Homo sapiens: one gene and its partners. The protein of the gene in region 1 purifies or fractionates together with the protein of each later gene. This does not show direct contact. Each region holds a gene or a part of one and is shown in the gene's direction. Other genes may lie near its edges.

Region 1 (3,500 bases):
CTGTGTCAGTACTTCATTCCTTTTTATGGCAAAATAATATTCCATTGTGTGGATATACCACATTTTGCTTATAACGGTTTGATAACCAGCTCACAAAATTCTTGAAAATTTAAGTCAGCTCTTGGAAACTGGCATGAGTTGGTGCCAGCATGCCACTGACGTGCACTAGTGAGTGTAGACTGTTCAAGAGAGTTTCTGCTCACCCCAGAGACTCTTATGAACATTGACAGACCTTTTTAAAAAGTACTGGCCGTGTGATTTTATCCTAGACTGAGATAAGAAATGTGGCACTAATGAAGACAAGGCTCAGTGCTACATGTTGAAATACAGGCTCATAGGCTTATAGGATGTTAGAATAGGAAGGGATCTCAGAGTCCAGCCTTTTCATTTTATAGGTGGATTTTGAGGACCAGAGAAGTTAAATAACTTGTCTGAGATAGTTATTAATTGTGGGCATTGCTATATTTTGTTACTTGGTATAGGTAACCTCCCGTGCCTCTGGGTTTATCCAGCAGTTTAGCTGGATATATCTCAGCATTTGGAAATGTTTCTCTGTAGAAGTCTGAACTGAATCAGAATATACCCTAGGTCTAGACTTCAGGTTCCCTCAGCCTCCCAGGGTAATTCTAGGAGTTTTGGTCTGTTCTAGCCAACAGTCTCAGATATGGCTGTGCAGACAGCTGCCTTACATTTAGAAATAACCCCAAAGAGGACTATAATTCCCTTTGGAAACATGACCTGGGCCATTCTCTCAGGGATTTCTTCTCATTTGGGTAGCCCTGGCACTGAGCTTAGCCATGTGTGTTTCACGTGGAGTGGAATTTTTTTAAAAAGATCTAGTTAGAAGGCAGGATTGGGAAACAAGGGGCGGGGCATGACATTACTGTTTTGCCTTGAGCAAATTTCTTGAATACTAGGTAGACCCCCCTCTCTGAACTATTAAGTTCAAGAACTATTTCAAAGTTAAATATCAGGCTCAAATTATCTGCTGTTTTGAATTGTATACACACTTTTAACTAATGTGAGAAATTGAGTTGGTTCTATACTATTCTTGAGTTGATTACTTTGTTCTTCCTATTGTATGTATGATGAATTTTCACCAAAAATAAGTCAGACCATGATTTTTAGAACATCTTCTGAGAATTGTTTGGGTATTAAAAGTGAGGCTTTATTTTCTTTTCTTTCTTTTGTTTTGGTTGTTTTCCTTTTTTTTTTCCTGAGATGGAGTCTCACTCTGTTGCCCAGGCTGGAGTTCAGTGGTGCGATCTTGGCTCACTGCAACCTCCACCTCCCAGGTTCAAGCGATTCTCCTACCTCAGCCTCCCATGTAGCTAGGATTACAGATGCACGCCACCATGCCTGGCTAATTTTTGTATTTTTAGTAGAGACAGGGTTTCACCGTGCTGGGCAGGCTGGTCTTGAACTCTTGACCTTGTGATCCGCCCGCCTGGGCCTCCCAAAGTCCTGGGATTACAGGCTTGAGCCACCGCGCCTGGCTGAAAGTGAGGCTTTATTTTCAACTTGCATTTGGGTGAAAGAATCATTCCATTGAGCATGAGTCTATATTTCAGATTTCAGAATCTCAGATCAGAGGAATCTATAAATTTCAGACATTTCTTTTTTTAATTTTATTTTATTTGAGATGGAGTCTTGCTCTGTTGCCCAGGCAGTAGTGCAGTGGCATGATCTTGGCTCACTGCAACCTCCACCTCATGGGTTCAAGCAATTCTCCTGCCTCAGCCTCCCAAGTAGCTGGGATTACAGGCATGCGCCACCATACCTGGCCAATTTTTTGTATTTTTAGTAGAGACAGAGTTTCACTATGTTGGCCAGGCTGGTCTCAAACTCCTGGCCTCAAGTGATCCACCCATCTCTGCCTCCCAAATTGCTGGGATTACAGCAGACATTTGTTTTCAAATAGGGTGTTAGCATGCCCTGCCATGTTTCTTAAGATACATAAGATATTGTTCAGTTTGTGGTGTCCACAGGACCATGTGTGTCCATGTTCAATTGCAGTGCTTTATGAAGGCCTCAAATTGCTCAGTGGCCCATAGCGCTAGACCTGAGTCTGTTTGCTCTCAGTTCTGTTCCTCGCCCTTTCGCTGCTCTGTATCTTTGGGGGGTTAGCCCGTGTAGGCTGTGTTTATCAGGCCCATGTGTCCATTGGTGTTCTGTTGGTTTCAGCCAATGGGAAGGCAGAAATGGGAGGGGGTCTCCACCTCCTCTCCCTCCCCGCAATTCTAGTTTCCCCTGATGACCCTGGGTTCTGGTTTCACCATCTCCTCCCTTCTGGCCTGCTTGCCTGAGGGTGCTAATGGCTTCCTGCTGTAGATGATCTCTAGGGTGCCTCACTGACCAGTTTGTCTTCTCAGCTCTTCCATCATCTGTATGATCAGTTCCCTGAATTAAAGTCTCTCTGTTTTAAATGTTCAGGTGGTTTTTTTTTCCAGGCTAAACTGACTGATACACCCACATTGTCACAACTTAGAAAACTTCAAAACGTATTCATCCCTCAGGAATATTCAAACAGTTCAGGACACCTTACTTCAGAGTATAATGCCTTGGAAGATAGACACGTGACCTGTGATGCCACCAATGGCATATGGTTTTATGTATGGGTCTGTATGACATATTGACATAAGGGAAGGAAAGAGAACCCACATACTTTTGTTAGAACCATAGATACTATACTTTACAAGCTCTTTTACACCTTGTGTTTAAGAGAAATTGTAGTGCAGTATTGTGCCAAGCTGTCAGAAGACGTAGTATGCAGTCAGTTTTTGGGACGTGGGCAAACTCTAGATTCTTACTCATTGCCAGCACTCAGGGTTATATAAAATGTTTGCAGTGCGAATTGTGTACCTAGCCAAAATTGCGCCACTGCACTCCAGCCTAGGCAGCAGAGTGAGACGGAGTCTCAAAAAAAAAAAGAGAGAATTGTGTACTTGATCACATTCTGGTTGTTTAGACGTGGATGTGTGGCATGGGTGTGTAAAGGAGCCCCTTCCAAGAAGATACCTAGCTTAAATACATTATAGTTCTTATCAGTATTCTTATAGTCTAGACTCAAGAAGAGGTCTGCCATGGGTGAACTTGAGCACAACAGATTCCAACATTGAGGGTGTGGAAACTCTTCAAGAGAATAAGCAGTTTCTTACCAGAAACCCCTCAGCTAATACTGAATAAACAATTGAAGAGTATTTTAAGGAACAAAGAAGAAAGGAGTGAGAAGCTGATGACCTGAAGTTTTCACATGGGACTAATTTAGGTAGTGTTAATCTGCTTGCTCTTATTCCATGGTTAAATATTGGTTTATTTGTCTTTAGGTTTTGTACAGTATTAGAATACTGTGAGGGAAATGATCTGGACTTCTACCTGAAACAGCACAAATTAATGTCGGAGAAAGAGGCCCGGTCCATTATCATGCAGATTGTGAATGCTTTAAAGTACTTAAATGAAATAAAACCTCCCATCATACACTATGACCTCAAACCAGGTAT
Region 2 (3,500 bases), on another chromosome or scaffold:
GGAAAATATACAGCAGTAGGAATCAAAATGAAAAAGCTAGAACTCATCATTAATACTGACCTGATATGTATTTGTACACTGTGAAATGTTAAAATAAATGGAATGTGTAGTTTTCAGTTCCTGGAGTAAGAATCGGCTGGGCATGGTGGCTCACACCTGTAATCTTAGCACTTTGGGAGGCTGAGGTGGGAGGATTGCTTGAGCCTAAGAGTTTGAGACCAGCCTGGACAACGTAGTGGGACCTCATCTTCACAAAAAAGTAAAAAATCAGCTGACTGTGGTGGCATATGCCTATAGTTCCAGCTACTTGGGAGGCTGAAGTGGGAGGATTGCTTAACCCCAGAGGTCGAGGTTGCAGTGAGCCGACATCATGCCACCAGATTCCAGCCTGGGTGACAGAGCAAGACCCTGTTCTCCCCCACCCCCCGAAAAATAAAAATAAAAAAAAGAATCTACTAATGTGCTTTGAGGGCAATGCTAGCTAGGGTCACTCATATCTCTGGATATCTAGCAGGGCTTTTGAAAAGGGCAAGGGCAAGATCAAATAGGAGAAAGATAGTTTCACAGAGCTGCACTGAGATTCTCCAGATGTTATGCTATTAATTGTTAGTTGGGGTTTTTTTTAGTTGCATTAATTTTGTCAGCCAGTTATTGTTGAAATGTCATCTATGTCTATACATTAGGTTAATGCAAACTATATTATAGATAATTCATAACACTTGAACCCATTGATTTATTGTAACTTCACCAAAAGGGAGACAGTAGGAAGTACACTTCCCACCTGTGAACTCTTCCCCCTCCCCCACCCCAATCCAACTTGAATATATTCAAGGCTCTGAGTCTAACTAGCAATCTATATGAAATAGAAATGTAATATGAATGTTAAAAGACACCGTGGGGTTGCATGCAGTTGAACCAAGAATGTGAGAAATAAGACAGTAAAATGACCAGATCCTTGGCCAGAAAATGGGGAAGGGGCATTACAGATTAAAAGAGTCTTAAGATACAAAAGCCAATCAAATGCAGTTTTGGACCTTATTTGGATCCTGATTCAAAGAAATCAGCTGTATAAAGATATTTATGAGATAGAGAAATTTGAATACCAAGTGGATATTAAATGCTTTTAAGGAGTTCTTGTTTTTTGTGTAGTTGTGTTACAAAAGGGTACTTTATCTCATAGAAACAGACATGTATGTTTTTAAAAGTGAAATGATACCTAATTTGGGATTTACTTTAAAAACAATAAAGGGTGGGCCTGGTAGAGAAGTGGGCAAGTAGCATAGATAAAGCCAGAGTGGCTATGTATTAATAATTGCTATATATTGGAGGCAGCTTCATGCAAGTTTTTTATACTATTCCATAATAAAGCTTTTATAGCATGTCATCTCAATCCTGCTCATTTGAGAATAATTTTAATCCACAAGTAGAAAAGTAGTTAATGTTTTGTTTCTCAGAGCCTTTCTTTCATAGAAGCAAAATCTGTGAAAATGCAAAGTGGTTTGATGATATTTTTTTCAGGGTTTGTTGAAGTCATTTTAGCTTAACTTGCCTGCTTGAAGGTGGGTTTGGTATCTTGAAGCCAAACGTGCAGGATTTAGTGGATGTATTGCTGATTCTTGTTATTTGTGGCAGTTATGTTCTCTAAAGTCACCTTGATTACTGAATTAGTGAACACTGAATAATTTCCCCTAGGGGAAATACAGGGTTAGGTTCCTGCGAGCCTTTGCTTATAACATTTTCCTCAGTGGATTAATACATAATTTTGTTTTTTGTGTATTTCTCATTTAATATCTGTGGTTGATTCATTAACAGTGAACTCACAATCCTGGCCAACAAGACTATAACACGTGCCTGAGTAAAGCTTATCCCACACACATTTTCTCCAGACAGTACTTCATGGCCTTCTTGCACATGGGAACCCCAGACAGCACCTAAGGACAATGCTTGATGGGCCATTTCACACCATGAAATGACACACACACACACACAAATGCAAAAAAAGTGACACTAAACAGACCTTGAAAAGGATGCTTGTTATAGTATGAGCATTGAAACGAGAAGGGAGAGCATCACCTTGTTCAGCCTTAGCATACTGGAGTCTCAAATTTTTCACCTCTCTGCACTTGTTCACAAAGGACCATGAAAGCGCCTTAAGTATTGATTTTGGGGTTACAAATAAATTTCAGCAAGTAGGCAGATTTGTAAATATGGACTACATGAGCAATGAGGATTGATTGTGTATGTTAGATACTAATAAGTTATTTTTCTCCCAGTTTTTGGCTCGAAGCAATTCTGAATATATATGTTAAATATTAGAAGTTGAAGAGTAGTTATATATTTTGTGAATGGATTGAAGTTGCAGAGTAATGTGAAAAGTTCAAATGTTTTATACAAATCTAAAGTTGACTTATTTGAGCATGTTATGCTTAATAATATAGTCAACATATATTATAAAACATATATAAAGCACAATATTTTGAATTCTTAAATTGGTATAGATGATCTATATCTGAGTAAACTTTAAGAAAATGTTTATGTAATGCACACAAAAGATAACTTGATTTTTGTCCGAAATGTAGACAAACATTTTTTTGTATATGTAGCATTTTTTTGGATGCGGAGACTCGAAGAGCGATGGGAGAACAAGCTGTAGCTCTTGCCAGAGCAGTAAAATATTCCTCTGCTGGGACCGTGGAGTTCCTTGTGGACTCTAAGAAGAATTTTTATTTCTTGGAAATGAATACAAGACTCCAGGTAACAACAACTGTTATTTATTCCTCTCCATGCCTCTGTACTTTACCCTTCCTTCTCCACCCTTTTTTGTTTTATAAATGTTAAAAAATTAACTCCATAAAGTGTTAAATAAAGATTTAGTTTTTATGCTTGTGCTAAGACATCTGTTAGGAATGACGGATAGTATCCCTCTAAAGTTCAATGTCTAGACCTCTGCTTTGTCACTGTTAATACTTTATGTTGGAAATACCACTTTGTTTTTTTCTTGAACCTTTCTAGATGAACTGTATTTGTCAGTGTGTATGTGCTGTTAAGAAAAATTACTCTAGATATTACAAATAGGAAGTGATACAGTGATTGCAAAATCTTTGGAAGGATGGAGGAAGGAAGGGTACCCAGAGTGAACTTCGGTGGTGACTCCCACTGCTGTACCACTCAGCCAGGCTCCCAGAGGAACCGGCACCTCTGCCACAGTGAGGACGTTGAGAATCAAGTGGCTGCCCTTGGAACTGTTGGCTTTGGGGGACATAACTTCCTTAGTTCTAACCAAATCTCAGGAAGCGACTGGCGTTGTAACCGGTGGCTTTATTTCCTTCCTTCTTCCCTTTTTTCTTTCATTTAAATTGTGAACTATACAGAAACATACATAGAACACAGGTGAATAATTGAATGTATTATTATAAAGCAAAAATCAATGTAAACATCAACTGGGCCTAGAAGTATTTACAAAACAGCCAGCTCTTTTTACACTAGCCTCATTTTCTTCT
Region 3 (2,597 bases), on another chromosome or scaffold:
GGAGTATGGAGATCTGAGACCGTGAGCAGGGAAGAAAGCCAGTGCTAACATGCAACCATTCCTCACGCCACCGCCACATCAGAGCTGGTTGGGAACCCTTTGCTGCTGGGGAGGCTGGAAGCATATTCCCCAAGAGCACTGCCCTGGGCATCATCTCCCTCCTGCGAGGAGCTGAGCCAGTCCCCTCACAGATGGATAAATGAGGCTGATGTTTGGAGGGAGAGGCACACGGTAAATGGCATCCCCTTAGGCGCCTCTTTGGGAAAGGAAAGTGGATGCTCCTTTGAGGCAGGCGAGGGGCTGGGAGTGGGTAGCCGTCATGTTGTCCCCCGTGGGATCCCATTTTTAACTTGACCCAGATTGTCTTGGGCTCCTTTTACTTTCAGGGGGCTGCTTTCCTGGGCCAGGCTGTGTAGCACTTCCCACCCTCAGGCATGAGTACAGACTGGTCAAAATGTTTATGCAGTCAAGGCCAAAGCCTGCCCTGAGCCCAGACACACCTGGGTCCCCATTCTGGGGCCTGGTCCCCTAAACAATCTCTTCCTCAGCCAGCACAGGGAAATCCAGACTCAGGGTTCCAGAAATCCCCCGTTCCCAAACCAAACCAATCATGGATCTTCCCTTTAAGGGGTAGAATCAGCCTTTAGAGTTACAAGCCCCTGGAAAAGGGAGCAGGTCCCATACAATCAGCCTTTCTCCTCTTCTCTTCTTGGGACAGGAATAACTGCTGAGCAGTCCCCCTTTGCCACTCCTGGCTGTCTGAGTGGGCACTTGTCTGGCTGCTGGCCAGCAGTGAAGGGCCACTTGGTGACTTCGTAGGGTTCCTTAGAGAAGTGACATGGCCTTGAGGAGATTCAGGGCACCTTTCCTCAGTGAGCTTTGATATGGTCCAAAAACAGCCTTAAATCAAGAATATTTGTGGAGGTAGGTGTGGGGAAGGTTGGAGAAGAGTTAGGTTTGTGCTTTGTAATCTTGGCATCCATGTTTTGTGCCTGCCCTCCCTCTTGGGGAGGCCATGCTTGACTCTGCTGAAAGCTGCTAACTGGTGACAGGGTGGATCATGGTGAGGACTAGGGGTAAGGTCAGGGAATGCTTAAGCTCTGGCCCTGCCCTGTATTCCTCTTCCCCTTGGTAGCAGTTCCCTGACCAAGGGCAAGGTGTGTCTCAGGAAGGTGGTTCTGTGCATGCCTGGGTGTGGTTAAGGCGTGGCCCAGAAGGCTTCCCTGGTGCTCTCAGTCCAGGCAAAGCCCAGAGCATCTGAGCACGTCTCTGACTTCCAGTGGCAACACAGTTTGAACGTGGTGAAACAGGGTGTAGTTCTTTTCCACATTCTGTGTCATCTAGTCGTGCAGGTAGGGAAAAAGTTGGTCTAATTGAAGATTGTGCATTTCCTAGTGACAGGTGCCAAGAGGTTATGATACGGGTTTCTTGGGTCTGATGTACAGTGTGAATAAATGCTTGCAGCTCTTAGCTCTTTTTTGATCGATGAAGCACTTTTTTATTAATATTTTCCTTTGTTAAAGGAGGAACCGTAACTCTCCATAGCTGTACATATAACCCTTTTCTCCTAAAGAGGAGTCAGTCAGTGCTCCTATATTTTTCATTTTTTGTCAAAGCAAGAAGTAAATACTTTAGAATTGTTAAATATATAAATAAAGCAAATAAAGTTGAGTGTTCCACATGGTAGCATTTGCTAACACTTCCTAATTCTTTGCCCTGTGGTTTATCCCCTCTTCGTCCCTTTTCCCTCTCACACAGAAGTGTTTGAGGGCCTGCTGGGAAACTGACCTTTGGCAAAGGAAAGCTACAGATAGCCTTCCGACTCTAGACCTTGGCAAGGAGCCTCACCATGATGTTCAAGCACTGAACGCATTTCCTCAGTGATTTTGCTCCTAAAATCTCCCAGGCTAAAAGAGGGCAAAGCAGTCAGGGATCTGACCTGGCAGCTATTCCTCCTTCTCTGAAGAGTTCCCATCAGTAGTCATTACAACTACCTCTCGCCTCAAGGCTCCATTTTTAGCTGCTGCTCTGATTTCAGGGCAGCCAGTACTCTGGCCCCTTCAGTCGGGGAGTGGAAGGAGATGTGGGGTGGGGGTGAGAAAATGCTTCTGCCTGTTGTTCTTGAAGGATAGACTATGGGTGGGCAGAGAGAACTGGGGGCAGAAATGGAATTAGATGTGATTGGGTTATGCAGTCAACTAGAGGTCTCCTTCCCGCCCTCTCTCCACACAGAGAGGAACCTCTGCTCCTTAGCTCTTACAGCAGGACTGTGGCATCTAGTCACTTCAATACTAGTTCTTGCTCTTCACAGAGGTAGATTTTTCTTTACCCTACAGCACTGTTGGGCATCCCTCCCATCACATGGGTCTGTGGGTGAGATATGTTATGCTGTTCCTCCCTCGGGAAGGTTGGTATTGAGGGGTGCCTTGCTCCAGAGGCGCCAGCCCAGCATCTGTGGTGAGTTGGCTAAGATCCAGAGTGACCTGCTCAGAGCTCCCCAGAGGCCTTCACTCTTTGGGGCAGTCTCTCTAGGGTCACTTTCTGAATGTACCTTCTACCTAAAGTATACAAACACAAAGAGCCAGCTGAGCTGGTTC
Region 4 (3,500 bases), on another chromosome or scaffold:
TCCTCTGTCTGCTTCCTCTCCTCTCTTCCTCTCATCTTCTCTCTTGCTTCCTCCACAGAAGAAGCTGGTTAGTTTGATCTCACGCAAGCTTATTAATGTCCCAGTCCCAGTTTCTAAGCTGCCTAGGCCTCCTGGCCCTCAGTTTGGGCCCGCTGGGCTCTTGAGCACGGATTTTTTTCTGCCCTTTCCCTTTTCCTTGCTCTTCCCCCTTTTTCTCTCTATCTCTTGTTCTCTTGACTGCATTTCTTTCTCTCCCTTCTCCCCCGGCTTTCCAGATCTGGATGTGATTCAGGTTCTCTTTTGTACACATTGCACACTCATCCTCCTTGCGTCCTAAAGCTTTTTTTTTTTTAGTTGAGTCATTTAATCAAAAAGACTTTTTTTAGAAAAAAATTTCCTCTTGAGCCATCATGCACATCTGACTGCAGCCCCAGCGAGCCCTTCCTTCCTTGTCTGACTGCTCTTCTTCTCGATTTCTTCTTGTTCTGCCTTCTCGGTTTGCAGCCCTGACCCCCGCTGTGTGTCTGGCCCTTGGTGACTGTCCGTGTTTCTGTTCCTGTCATTGTAACTGTGACTTTTCTCTCTGTCTGCCCCCCCTTCCTACTGGTTCATGCTTCTCCCCCATTCCCACCCTCTCTGCCCGGCCTCCCGCTCCCGCCCTTTCTCCTCATGCACCCGGCCTCGTCTCTGTAGTCTCTGCACTTGTCTCCCATTAAGGTCCCATCCATGGGGGGGCGGAAGCGGGAGCGCAAGGCTGCCGTCGAGGAGGACACCTCCCTGTCGGAGAGTGAGGGGCCCCGCCAGCCCGATGGGGATGAGGAGGAGAGCACAGCCCTCAGCATCAACGAGGAGATGCAGCGCATGCTCAACCAGCTGTGAGTCCGCAGGCCGTGCTCCCGCAGCACCGACGCCACAGCAGCCCAGGAGGCCGGAGCTCCCCAGTCCCCCGCCAGGACGAGGCCCCGCCCGCCCTGACACCCGGGTTCCCTGTCTCTAGGAGGGAGTATGATTTTGAGGACGACTGTGACAGCCTGACTTGGGAGGAGACTGAGGAGACCCTGCTGCTTTGGGAGGATTTCTCAGGCTATGCCATGGCAGCTGCAGAGGCCCAGGGAGAGGTAACCTCTGCTCCCGGCCTCAGGGCCCTCTGGCTCTGCCTCTCCAGCCTGAAGCCCACTCCCCCGCTCCTCTCCTTGCTCTGTCCCCCCATGTGGCTGTCATCCTCTACCTGCGTCTCCCCTCTTCCTTTATCCTTTTGCTTTTCTTTCTCCAGTTTCTTTAACCAGACTTCCTCTCTCTCTCTCTCCCTGACTTGGCCCTTTGGAATGCGTCCCATCCCATCCCTCCTTGGCTGGCCTCCCCCGCTTCCCTTTCTACTCCAGCAGCAGGAAGATAGCCTGGAGAAGGTGATTAAAGATACGGAGTCCCTGTTCAAAACCCGGGAGAAGGAGTATCAGGAGACCATTGACCAGATAGAGGTAAGGGCAGGAGCGGAAGCCAGGGGCGTGGTGTCCCAGAGGGTTTTGAGTGGGGCTGCAGGCGCAGTGGCCTCATCCCTGCTGCAGGACCCTAGAGACCAAGGTCTTGGGAGGAGGAGTGATCTCTCAGCTATAGTCCTCCTGGTGGGCTCTGAAGACCTCAGGCTCTGGAAACAGACAGATATCGGTTCAAATCTCAGCTCTGTTACTTACAACCACCCTGAACTTGTAATAAGTTACTTGTTCCCTCTGAGCCCCTCCTTTCCTTTCCTTTCCTTTCCTTTCTTTCCTTCCTTCCTTCCTTCCTTTCTCTCTCTCTCTCTCTTCCCCTCCCCCTCTATCCCTCCCTCCCTCTCTCCCTTGTCTTTCTGTCCTTTCTTTTTTGAGACAAGGTCTCACTCTGTTTCACTCTGTTGCCTAGGCTGGAGTGATCCTCCCACCCCAGCCTTCTGAGTAGCTGGGCCCACAGGTGTGTGCCACCATACCCAGCTAATTTTTATTTGTATTTTTTTGTAGAGATGGTGTCTCCCTGTGTTTCCCAGGCAGGTCTTAAACTCTTGGGCTTAAGTGATCCTCCTGCCTCGGCCTCCCAAAGTACTAGAATTAGAGACATGAGCCATGTGTCCAGCCCTACACCTGTTTCTTTTTCTTTCTTTCTTTCTTTCTTTCTTTTTTTGAGACAGGGTCTTGCTCTGTCACTCCAGGCCCACTGCAGCCGTGATCTTCTGGATCCAAGCAATCCTCCTACCTCAGCCTCCCAAGTAGCTGGGACCACAGGCGTGTGCTACCACGCCCGGCTAATTTTTTGATTTTTTTTACAGAGAACAGGGTGTCACTATGTTTTCCAGGCTGCCCTCAAACTTCTGGATTCAAGCAGTCCTCCTAACTCGGCCCCACAAAGTGTTGGGATTACAGGCATGAGCCACTGTGCCGGGCCTTTTTATTTGTAAAATGAGGAATTTAATAATACCTCACCTATAGGGTTGTTTAGAAGATCAGATGAAATAATGCATATATAGAGCTTAGGGCAGTGTCTGGCTCATAGCGAGTGTAGCATAGTGGGGACTGTTTTATTATTATTAACACTATCAGTGCCATGGCACTCAGAGATGGACTGGGACTTTCCTGTTTCTTCCACTCAGCCTTTGAGATAACAGAGAAATCTCCATGCTTTTTCCCAAGCCTTGAAGTACCTTCTAGAGGTACCTAGAGGCAAGTGGAGCTGGTGCTTTAGCTCAAACTCTAGGCTTTAGGAGCTGCAAGAAGGATTTGTGGAGGCCGGGCGCGGTGGCTCACGCCTGTAATCCCAGCACTTTGGGAGGCCGAGGCGGGAAGATCACGAGGTCAGGAGATCGAGACCATCCTGGCTAACACGGTGAAACCCCGTCTCTACGAAAAATACAAAAAAAAAAAATTAGCTGGCCGTGGTGGCAGGCACCTGTAGTCCCAGCTACTCGGGAGGCTGAGGCAGGAGAATGGCGTGAACCCGGGAGGCGGAGCTTGCAGTGAGCCGAGATCGCACCACTGCACTCCAGCCTGGGCGACAGAGCAAGACTCCGTCTCAAAAATACAAACAAAGGAAGAAGGATTTGTGGAACCACAGAATGGAGGTTGCTGTTGCTGTGGGAGGAGGGATGGACGGGACCCCCGTGAGCTCTCCTGGCCTGGTGAGGTGGTCCTTTCCCGACGCTCTGACTTTGGGAGAGGCATGGAGCCTTCTCTGCGTCTCAGCCTCTCTTCAGGCCCACATGGGAGATTCATACGTAGTCCCCCCTTATCTTCAGGGCATGTGTTCCAAGACCCACAGTGGATGCCTGAAACCAAAGATAGCACTGACCTCCTGATAGCTTGGGTCCAGTTGCTGTCAACTGGAACGTGTTTCTGTTCATGTCTCCCACCCACACATTCAATGCCTTTTCTATCTTAACTAAGCACTTAGCGTGCGCTGTGGCGGTACCTTTTGCAGTTCGAGGTGTGACAGCAAAACTGGCACAAATTTCTTTTTCCTTCTTTACAATTTCA

What was found.
Region 2: the proteins of TLK2 (region 1) and PCCA purify together in Homo sapiens (affinity purification with mass spectrometry; one large-scale study listed by BioGRID and IntAct). This does not show direct contact.
Region 3: the proteins of TLK2 (region 1) and MTMR3 purify together in Homo sapiens (affinity purification with mass spectrometry; one large-scale study listed by BioGRID and IntAct). This does not show direct contact.
Region 4: the proteins of TLK2 (region 1) and IFFO1 purify together in Homo sapiens (affinity purification with mass spectrometry, with the first as the bait; one large-scale study listed by BioGRID). This does not show direct contact.

The regions. Positions count from the first base shown.
Region 1 is NC_000017.11:62,597,325-62,600,824, forward strand, and holds part of TLK2 (serine/threonine-protein kinase tousled-like 2), read left to right. Parts: intron 1-3,326; coding exon 3,327-3,496; intron 3,497-3,500. UniProt on the Homo sapiens protein: Serine/threonine-protein kinase involved in the process of chromatin assembly and probably also DNA replication, transcription, repair, and chromosome segregation. Phosphorylates the chromatin assembly factors ASF1A and ASF1B.
Region 2 is NC_000013.11:100,270,593-100,274,092, forward strand, and holds part of PCCA (propionyl-CoA carboxylase alpha chain, mitochondrial isoform a precursor), read left to right. Parts: intron 1-2,603; coding exon 2,604-2,754; intron 2,755-3,500. UniProt on the Homo sapiens protein: This is one of the 2 subunits of the biotin-dependent propionyl-CoA carboxylase (PCC), a mitochondrial enzyme involved in the catabolism of odd chain fatty acids, branched-chain amino acids isoleucine, threonine, methionine, and valine and other metabolites.
Region 3 is NC_000022.11:30,026,174-30,028,770, forward strand, and holds part of MTMR3 (phosphatidylinositol-3,5-bisphosphate 3-phosphatase MTMR3), read left to right. Parts: 3' UTR 1-2,597. UniProt on the Homo sapiens protein: Lipid phosphatase that specifically dephosphorylates the D-3 position of phosphatidylinositol 3-phosphate and phosphatidylinositol 3,5-bisphosphate, generating phosphatidylinositol and phosphatidylinositol 5-phosphate.
Region 4 is NC_000012.12:6,546,043-6,549,542, reverse strand, and holds part of IFFO1 (non-homologous end joining factor IFFO1), read left to right. Parts: intron 1-58; coding exon 59-67; intron 68-693; coding exon 694-875; intron 876-997; coding exon 998-1,118; coding exon of another isoform or gene 1,119-1,382; coding exon 1,383-1,478; intron 1,479-3,500. UniProt on the Homo sapiens protein: Nuclear matrix protein involved in the immobilization of broken DNA ends and the suppression of chromosome translocation during DNA double-strand breaks (DSBs).